2 separate regions of the Homo sapiens genome follow, and region 2 is linked to region 1. A link means that fine-mapping ties the variant in region 1 to the expression of a gene that starts in the linked region. Tissue or cell type: whole blood. Region 1 holds a variant in brackets; the other region holds the start of a gene. All regions are shown on one strand. Distances are from middle to middle.

Region 1 (5,688 bases):
GCAAGTTAACCTACTTGCTCAAGGTCACGCGGGTTATAAATAATGAAGCTGGACTTGAAACCCAGGTTCTTGAACTCTGGGCACTCTCCCCCAGGACGCTCCCTGACTCTGTGGTCTGCGAGTCCCGGACACTAGCACTTCCTGCTGTTCCTCATGTTCAGAGCCCCTGCCCTCCTTCTCAGTCTCTGCTTAGGCAAAGTAGCTTCTGCATATTCTTCTAGTACCTCATGTGGGTTAATAGTAGTAGACCAAAGACATATGAAATTATATTAATATTTGAAGCAAATTGTAAAGCAACTCCAGCTGTGATTTTTCCATAGTTTACTTTTTCAGCTCATCTTAGATTGGAATCAGATTCTTTTTGGAAGTTGATAGAGCATATATTTTTAGTACCATAAGTAAATATACAGCAATGAGAATCCTTTGGTTGTTTGTTTGTTGTTGTTGAACTACACACACACACACACACACACACACACACACACACACACACACATATATTTTTTGAGACAGGGTCTCACTCCGTCACCCGGGCTGGAGTGCAGTGGCACAATCAGGGCTCACTGCAGTCTTAACTTTATGGGCTCAAGTGATCCTTCTACCTCAGCACCCCAAGTATCTGGGACTACAGATGTGTGCCCCACACCTGGCTAATTTTTAAAAATATTTTAATAAAGACAAGATCTCACTATGTTGTTGCCCAGGCTGGTCTCAAACTCCTGGGCTCAAGCCATCCACCCACCTTGGCCTTCCAAAGTGTTGGGATTACAGGCATGAGCCTGAACTCGAGTTGAATAGAATATGGGGAGCTTGGACTGGGGGTGTCACTGTGTGAAGGTCGCCTCCAGGAGCTGATGGGGAGAGGTTGTACTTACCGTGTTGTTCTGTTTCAGGTATTTTGCACTTGGACTGCTCTATCATTATAATAACCAAGATGCTGCTGCAGTTCAGGTGAGTCTAGAAGGGTTTCCACATGATTTAAAAATCAGCACCATGTAAGTAATACTTAGTGTTACTTAAAAAAAATTCACAAGTTGATAGAGACCACTTTTGCCTGATCTACACCCTTTTATACAGAATAAAAATGATTCTGTTTTAGAAAGTGAATTCCTGGAGAAATGTTGGCCAAGAGTTTTCTTCTCATTGTCTTTCCATCTCCTTAAAGAACATTATCAAGACTGAGTTTTTGAAAACTTAAGAAATGAAAATATGATCTCACAGAGTTCCAAGTCATAATATATCACTACCCTTATCAGAAAATTTAGGCAGTGAATGATAGTCGGATTTACCATTTCCACTGTTAGTGATGATCACTGTTGCCAATGAGCTGGGTACATTATTATCCTTGTGTCACCTGTGACAAAACCAAAGCTGATGCATGCCAGTTGCTTGCCCGAGGCCATGTGTCCGTGGTAGATCTGGGATCTGAACCGCGCTCCATTGGCCTGGCAGGGGTCCTGCACCCTAATCAAAATGGCATCGATTTATTAGCATTGTCACATTTTGTATCTTACATCTTGCTACTGATCTTGAGAAAAGCCTCATCTCACACTCTCAGGGGGAGACTTTCTCCCCTTCGTTATTAGTTATGCATTTGTACTGCACCGTGTTGTTTCCTGATGTGCCTTTTTGCTTTATTTTGTGAGGGGCCAAGAGCATCAGCCATGTTCCCCAAGCTAAAGTTAACCTCATGACTCTGGCAAGGCTGAACATGTATTTAGTGTTTGATTGCTTTGTGAGACTATTGTGGTAACCTGATTGCAGAGCAGAACAACAACAACAACAAAAAATGGAGTTGGGTGAATTAACACGTACCCAATGGCCAAGAGTAGATTTGGGTGTCAGTGATAAAATTTTCATTTTCAAAAACCTGGTGTTCTCAGTTACAGCTTTATATAAGTATAGTAATAACTTTAGCAGAGCTGTAGAGAGATAGATTTGCAAACTTGAAGTGATATGGGATAAATCTCCATACGTGGTAGAATTTTATATAAAATGGCATATTTCAAGGTATGTGTGATTATTTGGTTTCAGCAATTCTGTGTTGAAGAAACTAGTATCATAAAAAATGTTCGTATGCTGACATCAGAATTCCAGAATTCATATGCCACCCCTGTTTCTGGGCTCCTTCCTGGTGCTGTGGCTTGGAGGGGTGGTGCTGTGTATGGGTGGGTGAGGCACGCCATGCAGGTATTGCAGAAGGAACCCACGCAACCGTCATCCTTTCTACCCCCAAGTGATGCTGCCTCATTCTGGGGTCCTGAAAGTAGGCTTCACTTAACATGGTAGGGAAGTTTCTGGCTGAAAAAGCAAAAGGCTTTTATCACTGGAGTCTATCCTGAGCCCCCTGTGCAAAAGGCAGTGTGAACTCAGGGGACAGAATCACTGAAGCTTTTGTAAAAGCACAACATCTGCCTATCACAGTCCAAAGGGGACTTCAAAATCAAGAATGTCTGTGACGGAGAAGATGGAAACAGAGCCTGGCTGATGGTTGTAGGTGAATCTTCTCTGTGTCGAGATGTTATCAGTGACCGTTTTCTTTATTTCATGAAGAAACATTTTTAATATATTCACCTCCCTGCATATATTCTGTTTACTGTGTTATTGTTAAAAAAAGAAAGAAAGATAAAAGAACCTAGAGCTTAATTTTTTTTTTTATTTCTTGGACTATGTCTTTTTACATTTCTTTATTTCTCCAAAAAAACTAAAATTTAAGCATTTACAGTTTTTCCAACTACTTTAAAAGGTATTAAAAAGCCAAATAAGTAAACATATGCCATTTCTCAACTAATTCTGAGATATGTGCCTTTATGATTGTTTTTTCTTTTCTTTTTCTTTTTTTCTTTTTGATTCCTTTCCAGTTGTGGGTGAACATTGTGAATGGCGATGTCCAGGACTCCACACGCTCAGACCTGTATGAATACATCGTGGATTTTCTTACCTACTGCTTAGACGAGGAACTAGTGTGGGCCTATGCTGATTGGGTCCTGCAGAAAAGTGAAGAGGTTTGTGCTTCGTAAAAATGCATTCTCTTTGGTTGGGGGAGGTGGTAAAAACAGACCCCAAAAGCTTTGCTTTTAGGAGGGGAAAAGAAAGCTACATTTCAACCTCCTCCTCTGTTTTTTGTTGTTGTTATTATTCCCCTTTTAATACCTTCCCTTGAGCTCTCTGGATTCTAGCTCTAGGGCAGTTCTGCATCTTGCTGCTGAGACATTCCATTGAGAATCCCCTTGCTGGGGCAAGTCACTTGTATAGAAAAGCAAGACATAGCCAGCTTGCATTTTTAGCATCTTCTTAAGAACTTGTGTCTGTGAACCCCGCTCCTCGACCCCTCAGAAGTCTGACACTGCTGTTTTCTGGAGCAGGATTAGGTGGTT[G/T]CCCTGAAGGACTTGATCTTTGGGAGGAGGAAGCACCCAGACCTGGGCCACACTGGGCCCTCATCCCTGCTCCCACCACTGCCAACATGGAGCTTGTGGGCCTGGAGGAGGGAGGGGAGCCATGAGCAAGACTCGGCCTGTCCTGGAGGCTGAGAAATGCTGGCAGTGAAAAAGCACCTGTTGGCTAGAGGGAAGGTAGCAGGCTCAGGACAGTATCCTTAGTAAAGCCCCACAGGTGACCACAGGTGACTGGGAAGAAGACAGCAAGCATTTCAGTTCTCATCGTGAAAAACGTATACGCTTCCATGGCTCCCCTTGGAGAGACAAAATGAGCTTTCTGATGCAGGACGTTGGTCCTGAATGGAGAGTTTCTGAGTGCTGCATCTGCCTTTCTAAGACCTGAGTTGGAATATATTCTCATATCCTCCGTGGTGCTGGCTTCCCTGGAAAATCAGAGCCAGGCACTTGCACTTTGCATACTTGTTTCTCCATCTTTACTTTGCCTCTGTGCACACGCCTGCAGAGCACATCCTGACCTGCTCACACACACCTACAACATGGATCTCAGTGCCGTTGCAAGGTTTAGGCTTCTCCCAATGCTTATGGATGATAACAGCAGATACTGCACGGTGGACAATCCCCTGACAAAGGTCATCGCTTAAACATCATAGCAGCCCCTCAGTGGGCATTAGCTACAGATGAGGAAACTGAGGCTATAGTTGGTAGAGCTGGGACACAAATCCAGGCTTATAGAATCCAAAATTCATACCATAATACATGATACGTGAATGTATTGGCCTTGGAGGGGGGAGGTGCGTGTGTGCGTGCACATGATAGAACCTCCCACATGTAAGTGCTCAGGGGAGGTGCAGTGGAGAGCTGCTTTCCTGCCTGCCTCACTGTCCTTTCCTTGAACCAGAGGATTGGACCAGTGCCTCCACTTGATGGACACAGGAAGGCAGCCCGGAAACTTACTCAGGGACTGGAAGCTCAGATCTCAGATTAACCATCTATCATAAATAACCCAGAGTAGATAATCCATGTTCAGAGAAGTGAGTTTACTGTACAGAAATTTCAGCACTTTTGATATCTTTTCACATACTGTTCTGCAACTGGCTATCCCTGTTCTTGGATGATCTTAATGTTATTATTATAGGTTGTCAAAATCTGTCACCAGTAAATGCTTTGTTCTTCAGTTTCCAATTTGCATGGGGTGTGTGAGGAGGACTTCAGGGTATAGGCTGGCTTTTCTATCTTGATTTTTTGCCCTCTGGCCTTTGACAGTGCTTCATGCTGGGCTGTTTTTCTCCATAATTATATTTTTTAAGCCACTGTATTGAGATATGATTGACATACAAAAAGCTGTGCATACATAATAATTTAATCATATTTTAAGTGATGATTTTATCCAAAGCTTGAATGTGCAATGACCAAAATAAAGTTAAAGGAAAGGTGGGTTTGGGAAGCACAGTCACTGTATTGTCGCTCCTCTTTCAGGTCGGAGTTCAGGTTTTCACCAAGAGACCTTTGGATGAACAGCAGAAGAACAGTTTTAATCCAGACGACATTATCAATTGCCTTAAAAAATACCCTAAAGCCCTTGTGAAGTATCTGGAACATCTTGTGATAGACAAGAGACTGCAGGTGAGCACTGCAGAAGTTAGACTAAAGAGTGTGGGCTGGAGAGACGGAATTGAACTAGAACACTTTTTGGCATGTGATTCTGTGTAATGTCTGTTCCCTGGGTGATCCATCCGTACTTGTTGATGGTCTGATGGCGGCCTTGAGGCTTGCGGAAAGAGACCTGGAGCAATAGGTAGCTTTATTTTTTTCTCCGTCCGTCTCACACCCACTCAGCTTTTATTTTTCCTCTCTTTTCCTTCTTTGTTATTATCCTTAAAGGAAATAAAGGGAGCTATACCTTTTTGTAGGTTATCTAAATTCTGTGGCCCTTACTTCTTGAAATAAGAGGTGACATTTTGTTCTATTCCCCATAGATGGTAAACTCATCTCAGTATCATGGTTTCTGAGAGGGTTTCGATCCAGCAAGTGAGCATCTGCCCAGCTCATGTCAGTGCAGCCGCGGTCTCCAAGCCCTGGCTGACAGGGGAGAGCTTTGACTTTCCCACTTGAAAACACTGTCTGTCTGCTTGGCTCCCCCTGTTTCCTGCAGAAAGAAGAGTATCACACCCACTTAGCTGTGCTGTACCTGGAAGAGGTGCTGCTGCAGAGGGCCTCCGCCAGTGGCAAGGGTGCAGAGGCCACCGAGACGCAGGCCAAGCTGCGGCGGCTGCTCCAGAAATCTGATTTA
Region 2 (5,276 bases), 54 kb before region 1:
GCCGAGGTGGGTGGATCACTTGAGGTCAGGAGTTCAAGACCAACCTGTTCAATATGGTAAAACCCTGTCTCTACTAAAAATACAAAAATTAGCCCTGCGTGGTGGTGCATGCCTGTAGTCGCAGATACTTAGGAGGCTGAGGCAGGAGAATTGCTTGAACCTGGGAGGTAGAGGTTGCAGTGAGCTGAGAAGATTGTACCACTGCACTCCAGCCTGGGCAAAAGAGACTGTCTAAAAAAAAAAAAAAAAAGTAATCTAGTTAATATTTCAATATTGAGCATCAAGAATTTTTAAAAATTGGTTGAGTGTTTTCTACATGCAGAAAGATACAGCAGAGAGCATAGACACAATCCTTGCCCTCCCAAGCGTATACCCAGCGAGAAAGTGAGAAGCACAGAGTATGTGTAAGCATAAAAATACTAAGTTTTGAGAGTAGACAGCAACTATGAAAATATTCAGTTATATCGATGCAACTCAGTCTTCATTAATTGTTCTCATCGGAGCACATCTTTTTCACATTCTGTAAAGTAACGCTCGGTATGGGCCCAAGGAATATTTAATAAATATTTAAAAATGAAGTTAATAATTGTTTTGAAAGCCATATGGTTGATATTTCTTCTTAAATGTAACCAATAGAAACAACATAAGGAATTTGGCCTGTGCATATATTTGCACATTTATGGTACAGGCATTTACATGGAGGTGCCTGTCATTTGTGACACAGACTTCTCATCAAGTTTCAGAAGGAACAGATGTTTCTAGATGGAATAATATGGAGCTTGCCATTGTAAGAATCCTGTAATAAATCCTTTCATAAAATAAATATATCTGAATTATCTCTTGTTATACATTTTCACTCCTGGATCATCTAAAGTAGAACACAAAGATTGTTCATAAACTATTCATTCAAAACAACTTTATATAAAAAGAATTACTGTTGCTGAATTCTGGATTCTTATTGTTGCTCTTTCTTACTAGCATGGGGTTTGGGACAAGTCACCTTTTTAAATTTTTTTATTTATATTTTCCTAAGTGAATTAACACAGGAAGTCATTCACCTTTCTTTGCCTCAAAGAATTAAATTTATTCTTTGACGCTATTAAGTAAATTAATAGCGTCTACTTCATTGCTCAGTCACTAGCAGTTTCTGAAGTCACTGTCTGGCAGTCAGTAGATATCACCTCTGTAACTAGTCTTGTGCAGCTCTCTGTGATGTGATCTGGTAGAGGACTAAGATACAAAAGCACAAGGGTGAATTCTAGGACCACCTGAGCCAGTGATTAGTTGATGACAAGTCACATAGTCTCTGTGAGCCTGGGTAAAATGAAGAGACTGGATTTGCTCTTGTACCTTCCCAATCCCTGGCTCCACTAGCTGTTGGCCACCTTAGACTTGAAGGTCCATTCACTGCTGCTTGCCCTTGAAGCTCAATTGCTGGTCAGAGCTTTACACTCCTGGGAAGCCAGTCCCCTACCTGGAGGCTGAGCCGGTGACACTGGTTCCACTGGGTCACAGCTGAAGCACCACTGGGGATGGGGCATTTATGTGGCCATGAGTCACACTAGGGTAGGGGTAGAGGGCAAGTCACAGGAAGATTGTTGGGTTTTTTTTTTTTTTTTTTTTTTTTGGCCAGTTTCTTTTCTTTCTTTTTTTATCCCTTTGAAACAGAAGACCATGGCGTACAATCTGGTATCTGCCTTCAGGGTTGGGATAATATCTTTGTTTTACAATACTCAGAGTGGCTGGAAGAAAGCTGAGGCCACAGGTCACTAGCAGGTTCTAAAGTCTGAAAATCCCTGGGAAAATTTGACTTTTTATATGCTAATAATTGAGTACTGACAACTCTGGAGGGAGCTTTCCAATTCTTCCGTCATGAAAGTGGACTTTGTATACTAAAGAGGGGTTCATGGATTCATGGTAACCTACAATTCTTCCTTGCGGCCTGAACCAAAGGAATAGCAGCTACAGTTGGGTTTTCCTAAAAGGAGTAAGATAGTCCCAGGCCTCCCTTCTCAAATAAGTGTATCAAGCAGGTGGACTCTGCCAGTCGGGGGTCCCGGTCAATCCCTAGGGCCCTGGGGCGCCATGGGCCTCGTGGGAGGGCTGCGCATCCCAACCATGCCTTCGTCTCCTGGTGGGGCACCGGCGGTACGTCCGATCCTCCAGCCCGCGTGGTCAGGCGGCCGCGGGCCCAAGCATTTCCCAGGGCCCAAGCATTTCATTCATTTATTCATTCACGCAGCAGGTATTTCCCGGGCGCCCTCCTCCTGTGTAGGTGACAGAAACTGGGTGGCGAGCGAGCCAGGCAAAGCCCGGCTTCCCTGAAGCTCCCCGCAGCGGCGGGGGCGGAGAAGAGACCTCAGCCCCGCGGGCTCGCACAGCTGGCGCGGACCACGCTCTCGCCCGGGGCCGGCGGCCTCAGCGCCCCCCGAATGAACACCTTCCGCCCGCTGGCCGCCCCGCGAGGCGGGCCGTGTCGTGGCCCCGGTGCACGGAGGGGGACGCCGAGGCCCGGAGCAGGGCCCGTCTCGGCCTGTGCTCGGAGCCAGGCGGCAGGGCCCGCGGGCCGGCGGGCGGCGCGGAGACGGCTGCGCTCCCGCCCTCCGCCAGCGCCTGGCGGCCGCCCCACGTGACGGGAAGCGGCGGCTGCGGGGTCGGGCCAGCCCAGGAGCCGCGGGCCGGAGCGGGGCGGCGGGGCCCCAGGCCGCGGGGCGGCGCGGGACGGCGGGCGCCGGCGCCGGTGAGTGAGGAGGGCGGCGGGGCGCGGGGTGCGGGGCTCAGGGCGCGGGGCGCGTGGGGCAGGAGGGCGGGGAGCAGGAGTGGGGGGTAGGCGGCGGGGCGGGGTGGAGGGCGAGCCCGTGCGTGTGCGCTGGGGCAGGTGTAGTGGGGGCTGGAACGCGGGGTGGGGGGAGCAAGTGGCTATACACTTGGGGGCAGGTGTGCGGGTGTGCGACTTGGTAGCTGTCCCTTGTGGGGGCCGGCTAGCCTGCTGGGGTGAGCAAATAAGTGTTCACGTGTGTGTGGGATGAAGTGTGCACGGGTGTGGGGTCAAGTGTGTATGTTGTGTGTGAGGAGTGCGTGTGTGTTTAGGGCAAGGGAAGACCTGAGAGACCTCGTCCTTGATTTGGGTTTTCCGGGGAGAAGGGCCAGGAAGGACTTGCACCTCCATCCCTGGTATGGAATGGTTTTGGCGCTGTGATTGAGGTTTCTGGGAGCTCTTTGGATTTGAGAGCTCAAATTCGGGTCACACTCAGGCCTGAATTGTCCTGATCTGGAGAGTAGGCAGGGGTGTGTTGGGGAGTAGGGAAAAGTGCTGTGCTGGGCTTCCTGGCCCCTGTTTTTAGCACCAGGTCAAGGGCTGGAAGCTGTCATCCCTGTGGAATTGTTTTCTTTCCATTGCCTTCTGGAGGTGCAGGTGCAAGTTAGTCCGCCTGCCTCCCTGTGTTAAGTGTTGATATCCTTAAACACGGAAGCTGTCCGGTTGTCTGCACCTGCCGTGGCTTCTACCCAAGGACTGTTGAGTGACCCTCAGGAAGCCTCCTACCTGGCTGCTAAAAATGGGGGCTCACAGATCACACAGCAGGCCTTACTGCACGTGGACTGCACGCGCAGCTGTGGTCAAAACATGTCTGAGCAGAGTTTAATCACTGATGAAGTGCTCATGGGCAAGCACCTTGTCTATCAGGAAGGAAGGCAGCTGCGGGTGTGATTGTGGTGGCAAGTTAAGGCACTGAGAAGGTGTGCAGGGAAGATCCTACTGCGTTGTGTGTGTTGGCTTGGTTGGAGTCAGGATGAACGAATGTAGAGGGACTGTGTGGTGGCTGCTACTCTCTCATGGTGGACATGCTTCTCTCTGTTGGTCAGCCGGAAGCTGGCAGACAACTGAGAGCTCGCAGTTCCATGGTCAGTCAGAAGGAACATTTGGTCAGCTGCTTCCTTTTCTTTTTCCTTCCATTTCTGCCAGCCGAGCAGCCTCAACAGTCATTGCAGCTGCTTCTGTGATGTGTAGCAAAACGCTGCCTGGAGTACTAGAAAGTCTACTGGCTGGAATCTGCTGGAACCTGTCCATAACTAGCCTGCCCCAGGTCATCTATGAAATGGGAGTGATGCTCTGTGGTGGTAATGAATGTGGAGTGTGGGTTCAAATCCTGCCTCTGCCATTTCCTGTGACCTTTGGGCAATTTGCTGGACATTCTGAGTCTCAAATTCCTCCATCAAAATAGGGATAATATTAGAAAAGGCACATGAATTCTAATAAGAAATTGTGCCTGGAAAGGATCCGGCACAGGGTCTGGCATTTAGTAGGTGCTCAATAAATTATTGCTGACAAATATAAATGAGGATGTAGAGCCAGGTCTCCCTCAGCTCTGAAAATATGTAGTTTTATGTTTTGAGTAATTGTTAACCTAACAAATGATTTACTCTGGAGTTAGACTTGTGGGTTCTGAATTCCAATTTGCTATGTGCATCAAGGTTTGCATTACACAATTGAATTGGGTGAGAGGTGAGGTGCCACTGTTAGCCTTCATTCACTCTGCCTTTTCTTCTACACTCATGATTGTGCATGGCAGTCCTCTTGTCATAGCATTGGAGGCAGAGCGTTTTCACCACTGCAGGAATCCCAGGACCAATCTAACCTCAGCTTAAACCCTCCAGAGACAGGGATTTGTAAAGGGCCCATTCTTCATTTAGGCAGCTCCAGTTGAGGAGTTTTAAAAGCATAGAGCTCACTATTTTAAAAATGCTATATTTTCTTTTTGTTGTTGTCTTCTGGGTGGTTTTTTTGCTGTTGTTTTTGAGACAGGGTCTTGCTCTGTCACCCAGGCTGGAGTGCAGTGGTGTGACCATGGCTCACTGCAGTCTTGATCTCCCAGACTCAAGGGATCCTCCCACCTCAGCCTCTCAAGTAGCTGGGACCACAGGCTCGCACTACCACACCCAGATAATTTAAAAAATTTTTTTTGTAGAGATAGGGGTCTCCCTGTGTTGCCCAGGCTGTTCTCAAACTCCTGGCCTCAAGCAATCCTCCTGTCTTGGCCTCCCAAAGTGCTGGGATTACAGACCTGAGCCGCTGCGCCCAGCCAAAAAACTTGCTGTATTTTCTGGGTCTGATATGCAGCTAACATTTCTGTTAGGAAAAAAAAAATGAAGTTATTTGGCTTATTCCTTCATGCTAATATTACAAATTTGTGATCTTTTAAGAAAACTTGAAGAAATTTTACTTAATGGGTTAAGTGTCTTCATCTTGGTCTGAATCCAGCCCTCATTAGAAATAC

Evidence for each region. PIP is the estimated chance that this variant, and not a neighbour inherited with it, causes the effect.
Region 2: it holds the start of TGFBRAP1, and the variant in region 1 is fine-mapped to the expression of TGFBRAP1 in whole blood (INTERVAL, PIP above 0.99).

What each region holds. Positions count from the first base shown.
Region 1 is chr2:105,272,877-105,278,564 of GRCh38, reverse strand. TGFBRAP1 (transforming growth factor beta receptor associated protein 1) reads left to right here. Exons shown (of 12, transcript NM_004257.6): 7 at 894-951; 8 at 2,862-3,005; 9 at 4,875-5,021; 10 at 5,551-5,688. Among named protein-coding and RNA genes, the nearest start is that of GPR45, 34 kb to the right of the region's middle. The variant G/T (reference allele first, on the strand shown) is at 3,378.
Region 2 is chr2:105,327,089-105,332,364 of GRCh38, reverse strand. It overlaps TGFBRAP1 (transforming growth factor beta receptor associated protein 1), which reads left to right and starts at 2,630. Exons shown (of 12, transcript NM_004257.6): 1 at 2,630-2,740. It overlaps C2orf49-DT (C2orf49 divergent transcript), which reads left to right. Exons shown (of 2, transcript NR_187479.1): 2 at 1-836. RefSeq lists a silencer at 2,316-2,745.